2 separate regions of the Homo sapiens genome follow, and region 1 is linked to region 2. Evidence: fine-mapped expression QTL. A gene starts in region 2. The other region holds a variant in brackets. All regions are shown on one strand. Distances are from middle to middle.

Region 1 (5,302 bases), 39 kb before region 2:
CGGCCTCTTTTCAATTTCTGACACTTTATAATTGTATGTACTTATGGGGTACAATGTGATGTTTTTGCATACATGGATACATTGTATAGTGATCAAATCAGGGTATTTAGGACAGCCATCTCATTATGAATTTGTAATTTTTTTGTGGTGAGAACATTCAAAACCCTCTCTTCTATTTTGTTAATAATATACCATACTTTCTTGTTAACCATTGTCACTCTACTGTGCAATAGAACACCAGAACTTATTCCTCCTATCTAGTTTTGTACCTCCAAACAACCTCTCCTCAACCTCCTCTCCTCCACTGGCTCTGCAACCTCTGGTAACCACTGATCTGCTCTATACTTCCATAAGATCGGCTTTTTCTTTTTCTTTTTTTTAAGATTCCACGTATCAGTGAGAACATGTGGTATTTGTCTTTTTGTGTCTGACTTATTTCACTTAACATAATGTTCAGGTTCAAATAATTTGTTTCAAATGACAGGATATCATTCTTTTTCATTGCTGAATAGTATTCCACTGTGTAGATATACCACATTTTATCCATTCATCCATTGCTGGCATTTAGGTTGACTTCAATTCTTGGCTATTGTGAACAGTGCTGCAATAAACAAGGGAGTACAGATACCTCCATTTACCCACTGGTGGGATTGCTGGATCATATAGTGCTCTACTTTTAATTTTTTGAGGAACCTCCACAGTTTTCCTTAATAGAGGTACTAATTTACATTCCCACCAACAGTGTGTAAGGGTTCTATTTTCTCTACATCCTCACCAACACTTGTTTTCTTTTGTCTTTTTGATAAGAGCTATTCTAACTAGAGTGAGGTGGTATTTCATTGCAGTTTTGATTTGCATTTCCCTGATAATTAGTTATAACATTCAATTTCAATTCCTTTTTTTAAAAACCATGAACATATACTCTTTTTTTTTTTTTTGAGACAGAGTTTTGCTTTTGTTGCCCAGTCTGGAGGGCAATGGTGCAATCTTGGCTCACTGCAACCTCCGCCTCCCAAGTTCAAGTGATTCTCCTGCTTCAGCCTCCCGAATAGCTGGGATTCCAGGCATGTGCCATCACGCCTGGCTAATTTTGTATTTTTTAGTAGAGATGGGGTTTCTCCATGTTGGTCAGGCTGGTTTCGAACTCCTGACCTCAGGTGATCCACCCGCCTCGGCCTCCTAAAGTGCTGGGATTACATGCATGAGCCATTGTGCCTGGGGAACATATACTTCTATAATTTCTATTCCTTTAACAATTAAAAACCTTTTAAGGGGCCAGACACGGTGGTTCACACCTGTAATCCCAGCACTTTGGGAGGCCGAGGTGGGCAGATCACGAGGTCAGGAGATTGAGACCATTCTGGCTAAGATGGTGAAACTCCACCTCTGCTAAAAATACAAAAAATTAGCCGGGTGTGGTGGCAGGAGCCTGTAGTCCTGCCTGGGTGACAGAGAGAGACTCCGTCTCAAAAAAATAAAAAAAAAAGTTTTAAACGAGAAACAATTATTCTCTGCAGCAAACTCTAGATATATACCCTCATTCTGTAATCCTGTGTGAGTTAGTTCAAGCATATAAATAAATTACTTAAGGCCACATGAATTTGAAGTTAATACAGGTGAGCATTTCTATAGTCTCGGGAAAAAATTTTTTTTAACTTTTTTTTTTTTGAGACGGAGTCTCACTCTGTCGCCCAGGCTGGAGTGCAGTGGCGCGATCTTGGCTCACTGCAAGGCCCGCCTCCTGGGTTCAAGCAATTCTTCTGCCTCAGCCTCTGGAGTAACTGGGACTACAGGCGCGTGCCACCACGCCTGGCTAGTTTTTTGTATTTTTAGTAGAGACAGGGTTTCACTGTGTTAACCAGGATGGTATAGATCTCCTGACCTCGTGATCCACCCACCTCAGCCTCCCAAAGTGCTGGGATTACAGGCGTGAGCCACTGCACCCGGCCTTAAAACTTTTTTTGATAAAGAAAACAAAACAGGTTGGATGCAGTGGCTCACACCTGTAATCCCAGAACTTGGAGAGGCCAGGAGTTTGAGACCAGCCTGGGCAACATAGTGAGACCCCATCTCTACAAAAAAAAATTTTTTTTTTAAAGAAAACAAAGCACACTATTTGTAGAAATCTACAAAAGGGTAAAGAAGGAAAAAAAAACCCACTGGCTACCCAGAGAAAACTTGAGTTAATGTTTTTGGGACATTTCCTGCAAAAGGCAAAGTGCCCAGTGAAGTTGAACCTGAAGCCTTGTCATAATCTTTTGCTGATGCCTTGATGCCATTTTGGGGGATGGGGGAGGTGGCCTGGCAGTTTTGTCTTCCTTTGTTTGGAAAATCCAGCAGAATGGGTCTTGCACATTGCAAAGGCAAACATTCACCTATTATTCTTGGAGAAAACAGTGAATTTACCTGAATTCTGCAGGAAGATGTTGCAAACTGAGATATGAAGTGTTCTGCCTTAGTAAGGATCAAATGGTCTTTTAGCCTAACCTTTCTTTGAAGTGCAAGAAATTGATTCCCCAGGAGTGTCTTTAAACTCAACTGCATGTCCTCCTCCACAGAATCATTTTAGATAAAATACTGGGTCTGTGTGAAGGGCACACAATTATGTAGGCTGTGGGGTGGCTCATCTGGATCCAGGGTCTCTTAGCAGAATGCTGGGGGATTTAGGAAGTTTCCCACCATGGAACAGTTGGTAGGCAATGGCTGCCTCCAGGCGTCAGGTGTGACTGATGCCACCTGCCCTGCCTTGGTCAGTCAGCCCACATTGCCCTGGAAACCAAGGTGACGCCTTGTATTTGCAAACACCAGAGAATAAAGCCTAGGCAGATGGATCAGACCCTGGTGGTAAGAATGCGGATGGACCCTCTGGTCTCAGCTTGAAAGAGGTGGAGTCCTGCATCAAACCTACTATGCCAAACTCCTTCCCCAGAAGGAAATAGGAGAAATATCCTGCAGGCAAACAATTCTGTTCTAACTAGGAAATGAGGTAATCTACCAAGTTCAAGCAGAGAAGAGGGCTTGAAAAACCAAGAAATAAAAAGTGGGAAGGAGGTAGACCTCTTGAAGCCCACCTGGCAAGAAGCAGATTTACAGCTTGGTAATATTATGCTTAAGCCCA[T/C]AAAAGCAGAAAAGATAGGACAGTGGGATAGGAATCTGGAAGTAGAAGACAAGAGGTAAGAAAATGGGATACTGACTTAAAAAAAAAAAAAAAAACCCAGACATCTGACTTGACACTCTCCGTCTTGTTAATTTCTTCAATGATGATATTAACTAAGAAGGGGTAGGAAGAGAATTGGGGAAGGGGTAGGAAGAGGAGAATGCTGAGAAGAAAGTCTGGCTGATGGGACCAGCTCGTCTGGATTAACTTTCTAATCTTCTATAGAGGAGGAAAACCAAGGTCTGGAGAAGAGATGCAACTCTACTCAGAGTCTGCATGTCCCCCCCAGCCTGGGACACGTGGGGCCTGAGTGCATGTCCACAGCCATCTTCCCCAGCTCCCTCTCCAAGGGGCCACCCAGCCTCGCGCCGTGCCCAAGCCCTGGCCCAGGAGAATCTCTCCGAGCCCAGATACCCTTCCGGGCCTAAGCAGGCCCTACTCTCCCAACCCTCAGTTACCTTCTGGGATGACTCCAGCCAGTTGCCCTGGTGAGGGGGCTGTGTCACAAGGGGGCCTGGGGTCCCTCAACCTGGCACCCATGCAGTGTCCCCCGACCTGGCCTGCCTGAGTCCTCCCACACAACAAGCCGACTCAGGGGCAGGGAGGGGGCCTCCACATTTTATTAGGGATACGGCAGAAGCAGAGGCAGGAAGCAGAGCAGCCGCATTTTAAACAACACATAAATTAACCGCAGTGCGGGGCTGGGGGCTGGGGGCTGGGCCAGGCGCTTCAATATATAAAAACAACAACAAAAAAGACGGACGAACAGACCCCAAAGGCATGGGGCAGAGGAGGGCAGCACCATCCAGACAGCAGGGAGGACCAGGGCAGAGAGAGAAGGCAACTTGTCCCCCTGGCCCCCAAACTCCACCAGCACGGGGGCCTCCAGGAGGGCCTCGCGAGGGCTTCGGGGCAGAGGAGCAGCCGGGTTGGGCAGAGATGGCACGGCTGGTGGGCAGGAAGCCCAGCACCACAAGATGGCTCAGCCTGAAGTAGGGACTGGAGGGCTGCGACACAGTGGCCTTTAACCCCCAGTCCCTTCCAGGAAGAGCCTTACTCTGGGTGAGAGAAGGGACCAAGGGCGGGGTCTCTCCCTGAGCTGAGCACGGTCATCTCATCCGCCGAAGCAGTGGGTGGTGGGGTGTGCCAGGGACCCCCTTTTCACCTTCTTATCCACCTGCCTCCTTGGTCCCTTCAGGGAGGGGTCCCCGTCTCCGGGGGCTGGGCATGAAGAGAGCCGGTCCAGTCTGTGGTCCCCAGCTCCAGCGGGGCCGTGGCGTGGCGCAGCCCCTCAGCCCTGACTCCCACAAGAGGACAGCGAGTCGTAGAGTGAGTCACTGAGAGACTCCGAGGTCTCCAGCCCTGGGGGGCCCCCGCTGGCCACTCTGCCTTCCTCGGCCATGTCCGAAGTGCTGGGGGTGCGGCTACCCCCGAAAGGTGGGCCCTGGGGCGTAGGGGACGGGCGGCTGGGCTCCTGGCTTCGCTTCCGGTCCACGGGCAGGGCCTGGGAAAGGAGGGGCAGCTCGGGAGGAAGCTCCTCTCCACCTTTCGGCCCAGCCTCAGAGGCACTGAGCTCTGAGGGGCGTCTGTGCACCTGATGGGGGGCTGCTCCAGAGGGGGCCCAAGGTGGGGTATACTTCAGAGGAAACAGGCTGGAGGTACAACTGAGAACAGTCCTACAAGGTTCTGGGGAGGGACAGAAACCTTTCCCCACGAGAGAAGTGCAAGGAGGGCAGTGGGGAGGGCCGCTCACAGGGCATCCCAGGGGTCCTCCTCCCAGAGGGTGCAGCACTGAGACTGTGCGACACACAGGCCGTACCTTACTGGAGAAACTGGTCTCCCCACATCACTCCCTCCTGCTCCCGAGTCCTTTCCCTTTCCTCTGCTGCAATTCTCACCATGGGGGTCCTGGGCAGCCCCTCCAGTTGTCGGGGTGGGCACATGAGAGGGTCCGAGGAGCTGCCGGCTGCCCTAGTATTGGGGAAGGTCCAGTTCTTGGCCAGCTGGACAGGAGGGGTGGGGCCTGGGTCTTCACAGGGATCTGTCCAGGAACAAAGGGAAGGTGGATGGAGCTGCCTGGGCAGCTCCAGGATGCCCAGGGGCATCCCACCCTCCCACCTGGACACTCACCATCAGGACAGGTCT
Region 2 (5,369 bases):
GCCTGGGACCTGGGGGTGTGAGTACAGCAGTGAGGTGGGCAGGGCTGGGGGTGGGATGGGCAAAAGCAGTGGGGCCCTCCTTGCCCTCCTCCTATAAGAGGGCGGGTGGGTGAGTATGTTGTGCTCCCTGGCCCAGATCCTAAAACAAGTCCCAACAGCTGAGACGTAAACTGTCTCCTGGGAATCTGCTTACCCTGCTGGCCCTTGGCTGCCTCCTCCTCTCTCAGCTCCTCTTCAAAGGGCCAGGATGTCTCACCACAGGCGTGATGGGTGGGCCAAACCCAAGCCAGCAGGAGCAGGAGTTCATATCCCAAGGCACCAGGGGTGTGTGGGACAAGGTCTACTCTCAGGCTTAGAATAAGGGAATCTGTTCTCTCTACCCAGGGTTCTAATCCTAACTAATTGCAATTTAAAGCACACCCAACACTTTAGCTCCCTCTAAATGGAACCATTCTGCCAGAGGACCTTTCTCCCCTATAGATTCACCCATCAGTGGAACCATTCAATGTCAAAAAGTGGAAGGGAATATTAGAGCTATCTAGTCCAACTACTGACATTTAAAGATGGGGAAACTGAGCCCCAGAGAGCAAACTGTCTTGGCCAAGGTCATACAGCAAGCTAGGAAAAGTAGGGACCAGAGCTTCTGACTCTGTCTTTATTGATACCCGCTTGCTCCCCAAACACTTAGGTCTTCACCGGCCTATCATGAAGATCCTTCTTCCCTGCCAACCACAGCACCTGCCCCTCCAGGTCCTCACTCTCTTCGTGAGGGCCAGAGCTGGAGAAAGATGCTGGAGGGACAAAGCCACCTCATGCACAGACCATAGACTTTGAAAACAAGCTTGAACATGGGAATATCTCCCCGGAAAGGAATACACACGGTTTCTTTGGGATAGGAAACCCACTAATCCCAGGTTGTTTTTAGGAAGATGGGGGGACCAATTTGAGAAGTGAATTTTCCTATCACACAAGGAGTCTCAGAGAGCCAGATGGCGTAATGTCTGCAAGGGAGGGTCTGCAACAAGGCAAATGGGCTATGTTCATTTTCCCCGAAAGTACTGACCACAAAACGGTAAGGCATTGACACTCTTTCTACTGCTCCCCAGGCCACCCCTGCCCGGGCCACTTCCTCTGGCTGACCATTGTGCTTAAGAAGGAGGACCCATGACAGACGCGGAGAAGTGGGAGGGAGGGATTGCCTCTACAGCCAGAGAACTCCTTAGCCCAAGACCCCCAGCTCCTCAGCAAGGCAGGCCTTTAAGAAGTAGCAGCTGGACAGACTAAGTGGACTCAGCTGATCCAGCCCTGGGATGCCTGGAAAACCAGGCCTGTGGGAGGTGAGGGCCCTCTGTGCCCTTGGGGCCGTGCCAGGACTGGAGATAACGCGGGACCTTGGGCCCAGGACAGGGAGAGGGGAGCTAGGATCCGGGCAGCCGCTTTCTTAGTTGGGCTAAGCCAGGGAAGCGTCGGGCACAGATGAATTCTCTGCATTCTTCTGGCACCGCAGCCAGCACCCAGAGGGCCTTTTCTGCAGACGCTGCCCTGTCCCTGCTCCCTGCCCAACCAACCCTTCTCCCTCCCTTAGCTTCTCTTCAGCGTGCAGCCCACCAGGTCCTTCCTCCTTCCCGCAGCCCCTCAAAGCCTTTGAAGGGGCTGTTCTCTAGGAGACCCGGTCTTTCCGCCTCTCCCCGCCTTCCCCAGGCCCTACCGCCCCAGGCCACGGGGAATGGGAAGGAGTGCGAAAGGGAGCCCCAGGCTCGTCTCCGCGCCTGCGCTTTGGGGAGAGAGCCCCTCCCCCCGCAATAACCCGGCACCGCTAAGCGGCACCCGGACGGTGGGATGCGGGTTGGGTGGGGTGAGCAGCTGGGGCAAGGTCAGTGCTTTCAAAGAGGGAGGGGAGCCCGGCCCCCGGAACATCCCCCACTCCCGAAAGTTTCCCTTCCGGGGCCACGGAGTGTGCGCGAGGATGGCGCGGGGGGCGGGAGGGGGTGGGGTGGGGGTGCACAGAGTCGCAGCCGGACCCCCGAGGAGGGTGCGGCTGGAGGGAGGGACGGAGGGGCGGGCAGCAGGGTTTGGGCAGGAAGCCGCGACGCCCTCTCCGACTCTGTACTGCCACGAGAGCCTTACCCTCCACACCCCACTCCCCCCGGCCCGGAGCTACAGATCGCCCCCCCGCACTCGCCGCCCTTTCAATCCCAAGTAGACCCAGAACTCACCGAAATCAGGTGTTGAGCTGGGCCAGGGCAGGCCGGATCCGCCAGGTCCATGGCCGCGGCTTGGGGGCGGGGGGCAGAGAAAGGGGGGTGCCGGAGCCGCCTCCTGATGTCAAGGCTTTAAAGGGGCCGGGGAGCCCCGCCCCTGGCCCTGACCCCGCCTCCCTCCTCCCTAGCAGCCAATCCACGTTCAGCCTGGATGCGCGCCCCTCCCAGCCCCCTCCAGATGTTCCCAGGACGCGAGCTAAGTCTGCCCGGCCGGCGCGCGCCGCTTCCGCTTTGGTGGGAAGGACCTCCCTTCCCCCTTATAGAAACACTTTCTCCAGGCCGGGCCGGGCTTGGTAAACCTCAGCCGTGCCTGGGTAGAGGACGCCGGGCTGGGCCGAGCGGGGGTGGAATGAGGGCGTCTAGAACAGAGAAAACTAAGTAGGTGCGCGCGGGCCCACAGGCATGCGCGTTTGCTTCTGTGGGGCTGGGCGTGCACGTGTATGTGTGGTTGTGAGCGTCGGTGTTTGTAATTTGCTTTTCTGCATACGTGTTGGGTGTAAATCCATGGGGGAAAGGCTTGAGTGCCTCTTTGGCCTTAAATGCTCCCGCCTCTCTCTTCCTTCTCCAGGATGGGGTCGTCCCCCCAGTAATCTGGAAAACAGTTACAGCAACAGGCTCCTCTCATCAGACGGCAGTGCTGGTCGTTTCCTCACTGGTTTGCGGGGAAGGCTGGGCAGAAAAAGGATGCAACCTTGTTCTCAACCACTTGCTATCTCGGTGAGGATGAGGAAAAGCAAACAGCCCATCCAGGCCCCTGCAGAGCCTCAGAGCTTCAATATCATTCCCATTAGTCCTTAATTAAACACCTATTTGCCCTTGCCTAAATACCGTATAACCCTCACAGCCTGCATTGTAGTGACTGCCCCAGAAATGTAGGTTCTCACCTGGGTTCTGCAGGGAAATACGAAGGAATCCCTAGGTACAGTCTCCGCCTACTTCATTAAAATTTCTTTTGTTGCGAGTATACAAAGGATGCAGCTTAGAGTATCATATTAGTCCAATAAAGGAACATAAAAAGTAAGGCAAGTTAGGGTGCTCAGATTGGCTAGGATTAAGAGTTCTTTTCTGAAGGAGGTTTATTTAAATACGGAATTTGAAGGGCAGAGAGAGCTTGAGTAGGGTCCAGGCAGGGTAAAGGCCACAAGGAGATTCAGATAGGAAAGAGCAAATTATCTGCGTGGGACCGTGAGCAGATCACCGTGGTACGTTGGGAAGTGGGAGAAATTAATGGAGGAGGTTTCTTATGGAGGAGAGCAGAATAAGGATATGGATGTGACAAGACATAAGATAAAGAAGTCATTTTGGGTTCTTGAGCATAGAGGTAGTTTGATGAAAAGAGTGCCCAAGGACAGCTATTACTGGAACCTAAAAGATGTCTTGATGGGTACCCCCACCAGCTTTCTCATTTTTTTGCTTAAAAAATATTTTATTCTTTTCTTTTCTCTGAGATGGAGTCTCACTCTGTCCCAGGTTGGACGGAGTGCAGTGGCACAATCTCTGCTCACTGCAACCTCCACCTCCTGATTTCAGGTGATTCTCCTGCCTCAGCCTCCCAAGTAGCTGGTATTATAAGAGTGCACCACCACACCTGGCTAATTTTTGTATTTTTAGTAGAGACGGAGGCTTCACCATGTTGGCCAGGCTGGTCTCGAACTCCTGACCTCAGGTGATTTGCCCACCTCGGCCTCCCAAAGTGCTAGGATTATAGATGTGAGCCACCATGCCCGGCCCTTAAATTATTCTTAACGTGCAATAAAATGCACACATCTTAGGTGCTTTGTTTGGTGAATTTCAAAATATACACCTATGTAATTAACACCCAAAACAAGATACTGAACCACCACCCTATAAAGTTCCCTCATGCCCCTTTATAGTTGATCACCCCACACCCACCACCACCCTCCCCTGGCAACTTCCTGAATTATAGCACCATAGATTTGTCTGCATTTGTATTTCACATATATGGAGCTTTACAGTATGTACTTGTGTCTGTATCCTTTAGCTTAGTAATGTTTTTGAGATCCATCCATGTGTATCAGTAATCTGTTCTTTTTTATTGCTGAGTATTATTCCATTGCATGAATATATCACAATGTGTTTATCCATTCTTCAATTGATGGATATTTGGGTATTTCCAGTTGGGGTTATGATGAATATGGCTGCTATTAACATTCTGGTGCAAATATTTTCATAGACATGTTTTCATTTCTCCTTTTCACCTTATTTCTTGATGATAGTGGCATCTTCGGAAGCCTACAGCATTGTGAATTCTTATTCAATCATCTAACATTGAATAGGGATCAGTGGGCTAGTTCTGGGATTACAACAAAAAGTAGACATGGTCCTTTCCTCAAAGGGCTTGAAAGTCCAATAAAACTCCATGTACCTGTTGTATTCCTAATATTGCCTTGTATTCCTAATTCTGCCTTGAGGTAGAAAACCTTAAAAGTCTGCCAGGCATTTCTAACTACTTTTGGATGTTTCCAAATAACTGAATTATTGGAAGTAAACAGAACATCAAGATGATAATTTACTTTCCTTTTTTTTTTTTTTTTTTTTGAGACAGAGTCTTGCTCTGTCACCCAGACTGGAGTGTAGCAGCACAATCTCGGCTCACTGCAAGGTCTGCCTTCCAAGAGGCAATTCTCTTGCCTCTTGCAATTCTCAAGCAATTCTCCTGCCTCACCCTCCCAAGTAGCTGAGATTACAGGCGTGCGCCACCACACCCAGCTAATTTTTGTATTTTTAGTAGAAATGAGGTTTCACCAAGTTGTCCAGGCTGGTCTTGAACTCCTGACCTCAAGTGATCTGCCCACTTCAGCCTCCCAAAGTGCTGGGATTACAGGTGTGAGCCTCTGTGCCCAGCCAATATTTTACTTTTCATTTAGATGTTTACTCTTGTTTAATAAACAGCCAGAACATCTGTATTTGTCAGAGCAAGTACCTGGCTCTCTCCTTCCTTAAAGGCTATTGTGCACTTGATAATTTCAGCATTCAGATTTTGGCAGATTCTCTATGCTTCACAAACCTTCATCCTCACTGACAGGGGTTGAAAGAAGTGTAGCTACTATTGCTTCAAGATCCCTTTCAGTCTTTTGATAAGGCTTA

The links.
Region 1: its variant is fine-mapped to the expression of NCKAP5L in whole blood (TOPMed, PIP 0.97).

The regions. Positions count from the first base shown.
Region 1 is chr12:49,787,391-49,792,692 of GRCh38, forward strand. NCKAP5L (NCK associated protein 5 like) reads right to left here. Exons shown (of 13, transcript NM_001037806.4): 11 at 5,288-5,302; 12 at 5,056-5,198; 13 at 3,762-4,661. The coding sequence ends at 4,449. Among named protein-coding and RNA genes, the nearest start is that of NCKAP5L, 38 kb to the right of the region's middle. RefSeq lists an enhancer at 3,357-4,199. The variant T/C (reference allele first, on the strand shown) is at 3,119.
Region 2 is chr12:49,826,106-49,831,474 of GRCh38, forward strand. It overlaps NCKAP5L (NCK associated protein 5 like), which reads right to left and starts at 2,308. Exons shown (of 13, transcript NM_001037806.4): 1 at 2,217-2,308. It overlaps BCDIN3D-AS1 (BCDIN3D antisense RNA 1), which reads left to right and starts at 2,438. Exons shown (of 3, transcript NR_027501.1): 1 at 2,438-2,639; 2 at 2,830-2,978. RefSeq lists enhancers at 1-573, 1,717-1,766, 2,182-2,760, 2,761-3,339 and a silencer at 2,027-2,436.